Linked DNA regions of Homo sapiens. The protein of the gene in region 2 purifies or fractionates together with the protein of the main gene of each other region. This does not show direct contact. Each region holds a gene or a part of one and is shown on either strand. Other genes may lie near its edges.

Region 1 (4,563 bases), on a different chromosome or scaffold from region 2:
TTTCTAATATAGCAACCACACGAGCTATTATTATCGATTTCACAGATGTCAAACCTTGCCCCAGAGCCACTAAGCTAATAAACGGTGGCACCACAATTTAACTCCTTCTCTGCTGTGCCCCAAAGCCCTGGTCTGCAACACCCAGCACTATGACCTGCAACTTTTCCTTTCCTCTTTCCCCTGCCCCATTCATCCAGATTCATCCAATTTGGGCTCTACTGACTCAGAGATGGCAATATGAACTTAAGGTACCTATGAGCAATTCTTAATTTAAAAAAAATTTTTTTGGCCGGGTGCGGTGGTTCACGCCTGTAATCCCAGCACTTTGGGAGGCTGAGGTGGGCGGATCATGAGGTCAGGAGATCGAGACCATCCTGGCTAACACGGTGAAACCCCGTCTCTACTAAAAATACAAAAAATTAGCCAGTTGTGGTGGTGGATGCCTGTAGTCCCAGCTACTCGGGAGGCTGAGGCAGGAGAATGGCCTGAACCTGGGAGGTGGAGCTTGCAGTGAGCTGAGATGGTGCCACTGCACTCCAGCCTGGGCAACAGAGTGAGACTCCATCTCAAAAAAAAAAAAAAAATTTTTAAGGGCAGGGTGTCGCTATGTTGCCCAGGCTGGTCTCAAACTCCTGGGTTCAAGCGATCCTCCTGCCCTAGCCTCCCAGGTAGCTGAGATTGCAGGTGTGAGCCACCACACCCAATGCAGCTCTCAACTCTTCATTTCTACATATGCTTTCCCCATAAGTGTCAAGGAAACCATTTGTTTATTCATTTCACAAATATTTCTCAATTGCCTACTCAGCACCAAAATTCTTCTCAGCCCTGGGGATATAGAAGTTAATAAAACAGCTCATGCCTGTAATCCCAGCACTTTGGGAGGCCGAGGTGGGCAGATCATGAGGTCAGGAGATCGAGACCATCTTGGCCAGCATGGTGAAACCCTGTCTCTACTAAAAATACAACAATTAGCTGAGCGTTGTGGCACGTGCCTGTAATCCCAGCTACTCAGGAGGCTGAGGCAGAAAAATTGCTTGAACCTGGGTGTCAGAGGTTGCAGTGAGCCGAGATTGCACCACTACACTCCAGCCTGGTGACAGAGTGAGACTCCGTCTCACAAAAAAAAAAAAAAAAGAAGTTAATAAAACAGAAGTTCCTGCCCTTACTGAGCTGACATTCTAACAAGAGGACAGTGATAATACAATAAATACGTATAACTTATGGTGTGTTATATAGGAATAAATGCTAAGGAGACAGAGAAAGCAGGGAAGGAGGCTGAGAGCACCCATTCTCAAGTGGGTGGCCTGGTGACATCTGAGAAAAGGCCTGAAGAAAGTCGGAGAGCCAGCCCTCCAAATACCTGGGCAAAGAGCTTTCCAGGCAGAGCTGGAATGAGCTTCCAGAGGCCAGCAGGGTGGAAGTGCAGTGAGGGAAGGCATCTAGCTTGGCGATGAGGTCAAAGAGGTATTAGGCTTGGCGGGGAGTGGAGTTAGGGGTGACTTTGGCTTTTGCTGCAGATGAGATGGGAGCCATCGGAGGGTTTCGAGCTGAGGGGTATGAAGTAGAACTTAACATGACGCCGCCTCTCCCAGGGTTAACAGGCCCCGTCTGGCTGCTGGGCTGAGAGACTGCCGAGCACCAGTGGTGGAATCATCCGGGCTAGATGCTGGTGGCTGGGACCAGAGGGGCTGGCAGTGGAGGTGGCGAGGCATGGTCAGGTTCTGGGGAACTACTGAAGGTGGAGTCAACAGGATTTGCTGATGGCTTGGGAGAGAGGAGTCAAGGACAGTCCTGAGGTTTGGCCTGAGTAATGGGAAGAAGTGAGTTGATATGTACCAACGAGTTTGGGGGGTGCTTTGGGAGGAGTAGATCTGGGGGGACTATGACAGGCTCAGCTTGGCCACCTTAAGTTTAAGGTGCCTGTCAGAATCCACCTGGATGTACCCAGCAGGCAGCTGGATAGATGTTTTCTGCAGAGAAGAGCTTAGAATCCTAAGCCAGTCCAGAGCTTCCCAGGCTCCAGTTCCCTATAGGCCTGTTAGGGCCTCTCTCTGGACCTTTTGCCACTCCTCCTTCACCTACCCTTATCCCTTTCGCCCACTTCATTCTGGGTCTTCCCCTATATTTTTTTTCCTGGGAGAATCCTTTTGCTGATCTTAGAGTTTCCAAGAAGCAAGTAGGTGGTTTTCAGTTTTTTCTCTAATTCCCAGTGTATATTCCATCGGCCTGCCCATCCATCCATCCATCCATCCATCCATCCATCCATCCAACAAAATAAGACCTTTCACTACACCAGGCATATGTCTACATGAGAGAACATGAGAACATGACCAGCAGAGGAGCTAATTGCCATTTAAATTCTAGAGACGGAGTCAAAACATCTTTTTAAAAAATACATAAGCCCACAACCCCTTACAACAATACTGAAATCCAGGAAACTCTGAAAACTGGCAATTTTTTTGTAAATTTGGCATGGACTCACTTGGTGACAAAAGCTGGCCTGAATTGACATGAAGTTACTTATGGTCCTTCTCTTCCCCACTTCGGGTGAATATTCATATAGTTCAGTTCAGAAATACGGCTGTGTTTAGTGGGAATGCCCTGGACCCATAGTTTCAGAGACAGGCCCACAGACTCGCATTCTCCTCCCCTGCAGTTTAGTGAGTGTCCTGACAAGCAAGATGAGAACTTCCCTTGGTTTTTCAAAAGTTTCCTATTTTACAAGTAAGTGGGTACCTATGGGGGTATACTGTTTAAATGTTTGTAAATATTTAAATATATTTGTTTTATATTTAACATATATTTATATTTAAATTTTATTATATTTAAATATATAAGTATATATTATATATACATGTTTTAATATTTCAATATATATTTTAAAAATATTTAAATATTTAATAAATAGATGTCAACTTTAGAAACAAATATATATTATAAGATGTGGTTCCTTCTGGCCCCAGCATTTTATGAGCAAAACAATCACTAGCTACTATAAAAATCCACAGGTGCCGGCCGGGCGCGGTGGCTCACGCCTATAATCCCAGCACTTTGGGAGGCCAAGGTGGGCGGATCACATGGTCAGGAGATCGAGACCATCCTGGCTAACACAGTGAAACCCCGTCTCTACTAAAAAATACGAAAAATTAGCCGGGCGTGGTGGCAGGCGCCTGTAGTCCCAGCTATTCGGGAGGCTGAGGCAGGAGAATGGTGTAAACCTCGGGGGTGGAGCTTGCAGTGAGCCGAGATGGTGCCACTGCACTCCAGCCTGGGAGACAGAGCAAGACTCTGTCTCAAACAAACAAACAAACAAACAAAAATCCACAGGTGCAGGGGCCGGGTTTGGTGGCTTACGCCTGTAATCCCAGCACTTTGGGAGGCCAAGGCGGTTGGATCATTTGAGGTCAAGAGTTTGAGACTAGCCTGGCCAACATAGTGAAACCCCATCCCTACTAAAAATACAAAAATTAGCCGGGTGTGGGGGTGCATGCCTGTAATCCCAGCTATTCAGGAGGCTGAGACAGGTGAATCCCTTGAGCCTGGGAGGTGCATGTTAAGGTGAGCTGAGATCTTGCCACTGCACTCCAGTCTGGGTGACAGAGTGAGACCCTGTCTCAAAAAAAAAAAAAAAAAAAAAAAAAAAATCCACAGGTGCATTTAAAATTTTGACTCGATTATAATATTAAAGTTAAGCCAATTTAATATTTTTATTAATTATAATGCTAATGTAAAACTAAACAATTAGATCTAAGGAATAAGACCCAGATAAACAATTCCCCAGCACCTGCATTTCTGGTGGACAGAACCATCCTTAGCAGTACTTCAATGATAAACAATGTTAAAAGATGAGTATTTACATTTAAATATACATCACATACACATTATATTATATTGTTGTATTTAAATATACATCACACATACATTAAGGTAATGCGTGCCCTTCACGCAGAAAGCAAAGATCAAGTGATTTCAAAGAACTTGTCCTGTTATTGAGGTAATAACTGTCTCTCTCTTCTCAGATTCAGTGGTTTATAAGAAAGAACTTAAAAAACTAAAATATTTCAGTATTGCTTTTCCTGCAGGAGCAAACTATTTCAGAACTCATTCCCAACCCAAGTCCGTTGAACTGTCACAGAATCACAGAACAGTGATCTTTCCCATCATACATTATAAGTTGCCTTCCGTACCACGCCTGTTGATGAAGAAGCCCTAGTAATTCAAGAACTTAAATTCTTTTCCTAGGGAGGTTACCATAAACTCTTACTTCTCTGGTCAGAGTAGGTGAGTTGTCGTTTCTAAGGTTATTTTAGAGTCAGTTCAAGTCTTTAAACTAGAGCAGGAGAAAGCACAGATGCCCCCCTCCTCCTTATCCAGAAGGACGGGAGGTAAGGATCTTTCCATAAGCAAACAATGTTTCAGGGCACGATGTAAAAAGATAAAATACATGTCAACAATATGTACAGGCAAAAATTTTTTTAAAAAGTCTTTGTTGTTTTGTGTCATTATTATTATTACTGTTACTTTGTTGGGGAACTCTTAGTTGAAACAGAGAATGAAGCTTGT
Region 2 (5,626 bases):
TCAAATTAAAAGAACAAAAAATGCTTTTTTATCTATTAGAATTCAAAAATTTTAAATATTTGAGGACATGAGTAAATATTGATACTTTCACATCATTGATAGGAGTACATTAATATGACCATTCTTGAGGGCAGTAGTTACTAGAATTAGAAATGGGCTCTTCTTTGATCTAGCAGATCATATTCTGATTTCTCCCCTAGAGTAACATTCATAGTTGCATACAAGAAGATGTATGTGAAAATATTCACAGTGGTATTATTTTTAGTAAAAGTTACAAAACCATATGTCCAATAGTATGATTTGTGATAATACTCAAAAGGGAGTTGGTCACATCTATAATTTTTAAATGTATACATTTTTAATGTAATTAATCTGAGTGTTTTGAATGTTCAGAGAAAGGAAGAAATTAAGGAAGTGAGAGCTAGAGAATGGGAAAGGATGCAGTCCAGAGTATAGGTAGAATTTGATAACGAAAAGGAGAGAAATCATCTTACAATTTTAAAAAAGGGATAAATATAGAAATGGTAATATATTGGCATAAAAATTAGCAAGCTATCACCACGAGTCAGGGTGGGAGGGAAGGAACTTGTAAATCGTCTCATAAAAATCAGTTAACTATTTTGCCTAAATGTCTGAGATTTAGACAGAAAGAGATACATTCAAGTAGATTTGGGAATGCATGTGGATTTTTTTTTTTTAATTTATGAAATGTTTCTTGGGTCAGTGACAGAATGACAGTATTTTTCTTCCAATCTGTGGAAGCCAAATATACTTAGTTGCACTAAATGTTAGCATTGCATTTGGCAACCTTGACAGCACTTTTCTGATGAATGGCGGTTATCTAGAGATGATAATCCCAATAGGAGGCAGAATGGCAAGGTCTAGATCAAACTATGAAGGGATAATGATAGCCAGCTGATACAGCTGCTGATTAAGATGTTTTTCTCCCTATCATCATACCATTTTTACTACTCTGAAAAGACAGGTCTAACAATCCTGGTTTGGTATTTATTTGTCTCTGGATTTTAAATTTGTTAAAATTATATATGGTTGTCTTTTGGTTCAGCTTGCTTTGGTTTGGGCTTTATGTTTTAAATGTTAACATCTGGCTGGGCACAGTGGCACTTACACCTGTAATTCCAGCACTCTGGTAGGTTGAGACACGACAATCACTTGAACCCGGAGGCAGAGGTTGCAGTGAGCCAAGATCGTGCCACTGCATTCCATCCTGGATGACAGAGCAAGACTCTGTCTCCAATTTAAAAAATAAATAAAAATAAAAATAAAAATTGGCCAGGCGTGGTGGCTCACGCCTGTAATCCCAACACTTTGGGAGCCGAGGCAGGTGGATCACTTGAGGTCAGGAGTTCGAGATCAGGCTGGCCAACATGGTGGAACCCTGTCTCTACTAAAAATACAAAAATTAGCCGGGCATGGTGGTGCACACCTGTAATCCCAGCTACTTGGGAGGCTGAGGCAAGGGAATCGTCCGAACCTGGGAGGCGGAGGTTGCAGTGAGCCGAGATCGCGCCACTGCACTCCAGCCTGATTGACACAGCGAGACTGTCTCAAAAAAAAAAAAGTTAATATCCAAGTCTTGTATGTACTTTTCTAAATTTTTATAAAGCCCATCTTAAACATTATTACTATGAGACTTTAGCTGGGAAACATGGAATTAAATTTTTTCCTAGTGTGGTAAAATTTTAATCAGTTAATTATTTTTAATTCAGAGGTTCTAAAAGCCACTGAAAATCATTACCACTTTATAGTTTTATCTAGGCCTTGCCATTTTGCCTTCTTTTTGGTAGTAGACAAGGTGAGCAACTCTATTAAAATATACAGGACAAGTTCATAAAAACATTTTAGGAATAATGAACGTTGCCTTTTCTCCCAATCTAGTCTTTACCACTTCTGTTAAGACAATTCTTTTTAAAGTTCACCTTTTAGTATATTCAAAATTTCTTCAAAACCTTTAGCAGTTCTCTACCAAGTAAGTTCAGAAGCCTTAGAGTTCTAAAACGCAAAATAATAAAATGAGAGAATGCTCATTTCCTGTTTCCGTAGCACAGAAGGCTATTTTGTTATAGGCAAATTTAGTTTTAAACAGTTATTATTTGTATTCTCTCATCTAAGCCCAATAATATAGGACCAAAGCTTTTAAGTGGAAAATTAGTTACAAATAAGTTTCTTTTTGCTGTAGACTTTAAAATGTAGATTAGCAAATACAGAGTTTTATCTCTTGTTCATGATAGTTCATGAACAGACCCAGTGAAAGGAAGTGCTGCCATGGTAACGTAAACCAGACTGTTACTTGAGACCATACTCAAGATACTTAACTGCCCTGAAACTGCACGTTTTCAATACCAGTTTTTCCAATTTGCTATTTCAAGGAAATAGCAACTCTACTGTGATCAAAACAATTTGCAGTCCCCTCACAATAGAATTTGAAAAGTAGACTTGAACTAAACAATTTCTAGGAGCGTAATCTCAGGAATTCCAAGGTAGAGCATGGCTAGCATTATTAAAATAATTGTCTTGGTCTGTGTATGAAAAGTAATGCTGCGTATCTTTTCTATATGAAACTGAATTGGCTTTGGGGCAAAAGATGTTGTAGGTGCTAACATTTTAATTCTTCCTTTTTTTTTTTTTGAGACAGCGTTTCACTCTGTCACCCAGGCTGGCCTCAGCCTCCTGAATAGCTGAGACTATAGGCGCGCACCACCACACCAGGCTAATTTTTTCTATTTTTGTAGAGACAGAGTTTTGCTATGTTGCTTAAGCTGCTCTTGAACTCCTGAGCACAAGCAATCACCTTCGCCGGCTTCCCAAAGTGCTAGGATTACAGACGTGAGCCACCGCACCTGGCCTGGTGCTAACATTTTTTTCCTTGTCATCAAAACACATTTATCATTTGGTCCAGGTGACTGAACATATAGCTAAGTTAAGAAGTTTCATTTAATCCAAAAATACATTTGTAAAACTTGTCTTTTATTGAAAAAAAAAAAAAAAAAAAGAAAATGTCAAATACTTTTTTAGTATAGTTAATGTGATATCTTGCTGCTAAACACCAGGAAAATGTTTCTCCTGATAATCCAGTGCATTTCTTTCTTTATGATAGTGTGATATGACAACCATGGTTTTTCTATTTATATAAATTGCCAGCATAGTAAAAAACTGCCTTACACTCAATTGCTACACCTTTTCACAGGCAAAAGGTTTTATTCTCTCCTAAATTAATTTTATCCCGTTTTTTTTTACCACCTAACTTTTGCCTTTTATTCAGAACTAATGTATTTTTTTCTTATTGTCGTTTTTTTTTCAAAATTCCCTCCTCGGTGGAAAGTAAAGGAGTAGGAACATACTATTATTCAACCAACATGCAGCAACCCTTACGTACGTCAGTTTCAGAATGGCCCCTTAATATTCACCTATTTTGCAGCTATGTCTCTTGCATATAAATCCTCTTATTTGAATCTCATTACAATTCAGTGAAGTGGCCTGCATTGTTGTTTTACTTTACGGGTAAAATGTAAATGAGAAGTCTGACTCTCAAAAATTAAATGATTTGCCCAATATCACATAGCCAGTCAATAAGTAGTGATCGGGACCTTGGTTTTTGAACCTATAGAACGGTGTTCTTTCATTTTGCCATTCTGCTATAAAAATTATGAAATGATATTCAGAGATAAAAGAGCGTCAATAATAGACTAGTAGTACCTTGAAAAAGAGTGTGGGAAATGGAAGGACTCTGGAGATCATCACATTAAATCTTAATAGCAATCATAATAGCTTATATCATAGAAGATTTGATACACGCAAAAAGGAGTATGAGAATGGGAAACAAGTAAATTTTGTTGTTATCTAAATAATTGTTAATGTAGTCGTAAAGGTAATTCAAATTTTAAGAAAGAGTTTTTGAAGTAGAAAAGGCATAATATAAAACCAGAAGCTAATAACATTTGAACCTCACTAATCTTGTGAATTAGAGGAAGTTTTGTACATCATAGGATGAATCCCTTTTAGTCACTACAGTGCACACATAGCAAGCTCACTTCAACCTTAGTTTCATACTCAAAAGGTGCTAGAGATTATTTACCCCTGCACATTTATTTAAAACATTTAGACGCTGACTGTTTATGTATAAAAGTTCCTAGTTATTCTTGTGCATTTTATTCTAGGTTAATGGAAAAGGTTCCTTATGGTGTGTTGATCCGGAATATAAACCCAATCTTATCCAGGCACTGAAGAAGCAACCTTTTTCTTCAGCATCTTCACAAAAGTAAGGATCTTCCATATAACTGTCAGTGGTGATTTATAGGATTTCACTGTGTGAGATGGAGAAACTTAAAGGTCCAGGGTATTATGTTTCTGTTTTATTGTATAAAGAAGTATTTATGTTTTATTTAGTTTTTAGTTTTTAGTTTTTGTTTTTGTTTTGTTTTGTGGACACAGTCTTACTCTGTCACCTAGGCTGGAGTGCAGTAGCGAGATCTCGGCTCACTGCAACCTCCCTCTCCTGGGTTCAGGTGATCCTCCCACCTCGGCCTCCCTAGTAGCTAGGACTACAGGCAAGCACCACCACTCCCAGCTAATCTTTGTCTTTTTAGTAGAGACACGGTTTCACCATGTTGGCCTGGGTGGTCTCTAACTCCTGACTTCAAGTGATCCTCCCACCTCTGCCTCCCAAAGTGCTGGGATTACAGGCGTGAGCCACCATCCTCGGCCTGTTTTTTCTTTTCTTTTCTTTTCTTTTCTTTTTTTAAGAAGTATTTATGGATAAGACATTAGCCTAAGTTAGTTTTCCTTATGGTCTAATTTGTGTTTCTAGAATACAGGAAATTGGTGACTTGAGAACATACACTCTGGGAAATATAGTCAATACTGAGTATAAGTAAACCCTAAAGAAAGTTGTAATATAATTTCAGTTACAAACAGGTCAGATCATTTTAATTGTCTGCAATACTAATGCTAACCTAAAAATGAAGGAAATTAAAAATACATTTAAAATTTTTTAACAAGATTATTAAGTTTGTCATTATAACATTTTATATACATATGTAGGTTTCTTTTTCTGTTTTAGGTTTTTTTCGTAGTACTTAATATTTGAAAAGTATGTTCAAGTCTAAAATTTTTAAATGTTTGGCAAATAAAATAATGCTTTGAACTTTGTTTTTATTTTTTCTGGTAAATATAGTTGTACTGTATTTGCTTATAATTTTCCTTGTCTTTGTTTTCAATCCCAGTAACCCCTGTTGATCTTCTAGCTTCCTCATTTTAAGTTAAATCGGAAAATAATATGACCTTCTTAAATCTGATTTTTGTTTCCTTTTTCTAAAGAAGACTTTAGAGTCTTCTCCAATTTATTATATACCTTCATTTGAATTGAAAATCCCAGATTTGGTTAAAATACTTTAAGGGTAGTTTATAATGGCTAACTTGTTTTTTGAAAAATTTAAAAAGATTTTTAATAAAGTAATAAATGGAAATTTTTAAACATGGAAAAAAGTAGAGAGAAAGTTATAATGAACTCCCAGCTGCAGCAATCATCAACGTTTCATATAGTGGTTAATTTGAATTCTTAAAGTATTGTTAGATAACTTGTAGAGGAGTGGTTGTAGCTGGAATA
Region 3 (4,563 bases), on a different chromosome or scaffold from region 2:
TACCTAGCTTTGAAAACACTTTCTTCTAGGCAAGTAGTTGAGTCTGTTGGAAACCAGATGGGTGTTGGCAAAGAATCAGGTAAGTGCTAATAGTACTGTGCAAAGTATTTTCTTTGCTTTAGTTTATGTTTTCCCTTCAGAAACCTTTCCTCTTTTAATTTTCCCTTTTTTCTAACTAAACAGTAAGTTGGAAAGTTGATTGGAAGCAGTACAAATCAGAAGGTGTCCTTAATTAGTAGGTTATTATTTTCTCTGAACGTCTATCACTGAAAATTCATTTATACCAGGAATTAATTTTCTTCTAATAACTCCCAAGATATATCATTATTTATGTGCAAATATACCAGAATCCAAAATTCAAAACACTTCTGGTCCGAAGGTTTTGGATAAGGAGGGATACTCAATCTTTATTAGGAAAAATGACATTTTTGATACAAATAAAATTAGAGAAAGTTAGAATTGTTTTAACTGATTGGAATAAACGTGTAATAATGGTTGTTTTTGAAATTTTGTCTCTAGATATTTACATTGTTGCAAATGAAGAAGGACAACAATTTGCATTAAAGCTTCACAGACTAGGAAGAACCTCGTTTCGAAATTTGAAAAACAAACGCGATTATCATAAACATAGGCACAATGTGTCATGGCTATATTTATCTCGTCTCTCTGCCATGAAGGAATTTGCCTATATGAAGGTATTTATTTTATTTTGTAGTCATGCATTTTTTAGCCAAATAATACATGTGTCTCAAAGGCCTTAATGACAAGTGTGATTCTGTTGTCCCCACATCTCTCTAACCTTAGACTCAATTCCTACAGACAGACTCAATCTTAAATAACTCTGTTGATTATTTGGGCTCTTTTAAGTGATTTCCTTCTACGTTAAGGTATTTTAAATTGTTACTAATGCATAAGGGCAACACATTCTGTAATGCTGACAAGATGAAAGAGCCAAAAGTAATTAATGATGCTGTTACCTCACAAATATGTATGTGTGGATGTATATATATCTATTCAATATATGTAACTATACATATGTCTGTTTCTAATTGAAAACACCAGGTAATTATCATCTGTAGAAACCTTAGTGTCTCAGATAAGTTGGCTAGTTTTTTGTTTCACATAAAGGAACAAACATTTATAGATTTATATGTATATTAAAAATGGTAAAAATTGGCTGGGTGCAGTGGTTCATGCCTATAATACCAGCACTTTGGGAAGCCGAGGTGGGCGGATTACTTGAGGTAAGGAGCCCAGCCTGACCAACAAGGTGAAACCCCATCCCTACTAAAAATACAAGAATTAGCCGGGGATGGTGGTGGCCACCTGTAATCCCAGCTACTTGGGAGACTGAAGCAGGAAAATCACTTGAACCCAGGAAGCAGAGGTTGCAGTGAGTGAAGATTGTGCCACTGCACTCAAGCCTGGGCAACAGAGCAAGACTCTGTCTCAAAAAACAAAAATGGTAAAAATCTTTAGTTTTTAAGAGGTAAGGATGAAGAGAAGTGGGTTAAAGGATACAAACATACAATTAGAAGGAATACATTCAATGTTTGATAGCAGAGTAGGGTGACTATAGTAAACAAAATGTATTGTACTCAGGAGATGAACACACTAAATACCCTGACTTGATGACTTCTCATATATACTTAACAAAATGTTACATGTACCTCATACATTTATACAAATAGAAAAAAATGCTTAACCTGGCAGATGAAATGTCAAAATCTCAAAGACGGTTTTCTCAGGGTTAGGCCTATTCATTGCACTTCAGGTGTGCTGACCCCTGCAGTTTCCCCAAATATTGGAACTTGACTGCATATTTTGTGGCACTGGCGGACTACATTTATACTGTCCCCTGACATTAAAAAAAAAAATCCTTTATTTTTAACTTTGCCTTCAAAATTAAGTTCAGCATAGATTGTTAAATATAATAATATCCAAATTAAATATATCCAACAATAACTAAGTTAAACAAAAGATAATATTGTGTTTTTATAATCCTGCCAGTAGGATTTGTCATAGTTTATCTTCATTTTTCAAAACAATGTGAATTAAAGATTGCTACAGTGTGTGAACACCTGTTTCTTGAGGATTCAGCTTGTTCTTTGAGTGGGTTATATACTTAAATTTTCACTAATCATGGGAGATTTCTTAAGGCAGCATAAATTAGTAATACTGATACCATACATGTCAATGTACTTCTTATACTAATAGTTTGTATCTTGTAATATTCAGTCAGTAAATGAGCAGCTTGGTAGGGATCATTTACACATTTTCCCAAAAGGGTAGTAGGTGTTTTTCAGGATATTTATATTGAAGGTATAGGAATGGAATCTGGTTGCACATAAATGCACTCCTTAATGTATTGATTATTCATAAGAGAGGAACAAGAAGATAAAGATTGGGCTATAGCATGAGGTCTAGGCGATAGCACAAGTTCTAGACAAATATTCACAATCTTTAAGTTTATCACGTGCTATTGATCTGTCTAGGTATGCTCAAAATGGTCTACACTGAAAAAAAGTATTTAAAAACAAAGCAAAGAAAAATATCTGGGAAGTGGGAAGTGGTTTGGTTCTTGTTCACAGAAGGTAAGCAATAGACAACCTTTTGAAATTAATTGCTGGGGTAGTGTAGGGTGAAGGAGTGGATGCCAAAGAAATAACCAGTACGATCTGTGTCTTAAAGTTGAGAAGATAACACATGAAACAGAACCTTTTATTTATTTATTTATTTATTTATTTATTTTCAAGACAAGGTCTCACTCTGTCACCCAGGCTGGAGTGCAGTGGCACGATCACGGCTCACTGCAGCCCCTACCTCCTGGGCTCAAGCCATCCTCCCACCTCAGCCTCCCAAGTATCTAGGATCACAGGCATGTGCTACCATGCCTGCTTTGTAGAGACAGGACCTTGCTGTGTTGCCCAGGCTGCTCTCAAACCCCTGGCCTCAAGAGATTCACCCACCTCGGCCTCCCAAAGTACCGGGGTTATAAGCGTGAGCCACCACTGCAAGTCTAAGAACAATTTTTTTTTTAATTATATACTGAATTTAGAGAAACTTCAGTAAGTGATAGAATAGTTGATGGAGGAGGTTTCAGGTAGTGAGTGGAGCTGAGTGGAGCCATGAAGCTTGGATATTATTTGACCCTAAGACAGTGCATTTTGGCAGAGAAGTGGTATGGGCAATGACATGAATCTATGTGAGTCCTATGTGTTTAGGTGACACTGAGGTGACTGTCCTGACTGCGTTTCTTGGTGTGTATTGGAGAGAATATTGGGAGAACTAGGACTGTACAGGTGGATTAAAGAGTTTTGAAAACCAGGAAAAGTTTATATTTACAAACTGAAAAGAAAATTTACAGCCAATGTAAAAAAAAACTTTTTTTGAGGTGTAGTCTTGCTCTATCACCCAGGCTAGAATGCAGTGGCACGATATCAACTCACTGCAACCTCTGCCTCCCGGGTTCACGCGATTCTCCTGCCTCAGCCTCCCAGGTAGCTGGGACTACAGGCATGTGCCACCACGCCTGGCTAATTTTTTTGTATTTTTAGTAGAGATGGGGTTTCACCATGCTGGCAGGCTGGTGTCGAACTCCTGACCTCAACTGATCCACCCGCCTCGGCCTCCCAAATTGCTGGGGTTACAGACGTGAGACTCCATGCCCATCCCAATGTATATATTTTTAAATGGAATATTAACATCAGCAGGTTAGTCTGGTATTGGTACATAGAATAGGTTAGGTATGATGGCAAGAGCTAGAACACTTGTGGAGTAATGAGGTATATGCCTCCTTACAAGTATATGTTGGTGCAAAAGTAATTGCAGTTTTTGCCATTCCTAATACTAGCATTCTAAATGTCAAAGGGCATAAATCTAAGGTATTTTAAAGAAAGTAATAACAGGGCTTTGTAAACAGTAAGATTGAAGACAGTAAGCTTAGGGGAAAAGATGTATGGAGAGTCTTAACACTTGAATCAGACTACAACAGTGTATATTTTTCACATAATAGATTTATATTGCATATTGTGGCCTGGAGAAAAAGTTCAGTGCCCTATAAACCAAAATGTCTGATCTCTTAGAATGCCTCATTTCCTAATATGTCCGAAGATGAGTATTTCCTAAATTTGTTTCCAATTTAAATATTTTGAGCACATTTCAACAAATGTCAGAGACTTACAAAATAGGAAAGGATATACCCTAAGAGACTGTAAGCTTCTTGGGGGCTTTTTGACACTAATTTTAGAGTGTTTAGAAACTTTTTAACATTCATTTTTGTAACCCCAGCACAGTGCATAACATTTTGTAAATGTTCATTTTTTGTGGAAAAGTGAATTCAAACTTTTGTTTAAAATTTGCTTTTTATGTGTGGCTAATTCTACGCAGTGAATAAATAAGCTATGCATAAATAACCATGTGTTAACTACAATTTTATAAAGGTTTGTGTGTTTTTTTTCTGGTTGTAGAAAGGTATATTTACTTTTATTGTTCTTTAAAGAGTAATGACCTGTTCATTAGCTTACACCTGTTTTGCAACATTTTAGGCATTGTATGAGAGGA

What was found. The genes of interacting proteins can lie anywhere in the genome.
Region 1: the proteins of FOXN2 (region 2) and RFX2 purify together in Homo sapiens (affinity purification with mass spectrometry; 2 studies listed by BioGRID and IntAct, with this or other methods). This does not show direct contact.
Region 3: the proteins of FOXN2 (region 2) and RIOK2 purify together in Homo sapiens (affinity purification with mass spectrometry; one large-scale study listed by BioGRID and IntAct). This does not show direct contact.

Annotation. Positions count from the first base shown.
Region 1 is NC_000019.10:6,104,001-6,108,563, forward strand, and holds part of RFX2 (DNA-binding protein RFX2), read right to left. Parts: intron 1-4,563. UniProt on the Homo sapiens protein: Transcription factor that acts as a key regulator of spermatogenesis. Acts by regulating expression of genes required for the haploid phase during spermiogenesis, such as genes required for cilium assembly and function.
Region 2 is NC_000002.12:48,354,869-48,360,494, forward strand, and holds part of FOXN2 (forkhead box protein N2), read left to right. Parts: intron 1-4,178; coding exon 4,179-4,279; intron 4,280-5,626. UniProt on the Homo sapiens protein: Binds to the purine-rich region in HTLV-I LTR.
Region 3 is NC_000005.10:97,173,248-97,177,810, reverse strand, and holds part of RIOK2 (serine/threonine-protein kinase RIO2), read left to right. Parts: coding exon 1-79; intron 80-519; coding exon 520-695; intron 696-2,495; exon of another isoform or gene 2,496-2,594; intron 2,595-4,547; coding exon 4,548-4,563. UniProt on the Homo sapiens protein: Serine/threonine-protein kinase involved in the final steps of cytoplasmic maturation of the 40S ribosomal subunit. Involved in export of the 40S pre-ribosome particles (pre-40S) from the nucleus to the cytoplasm.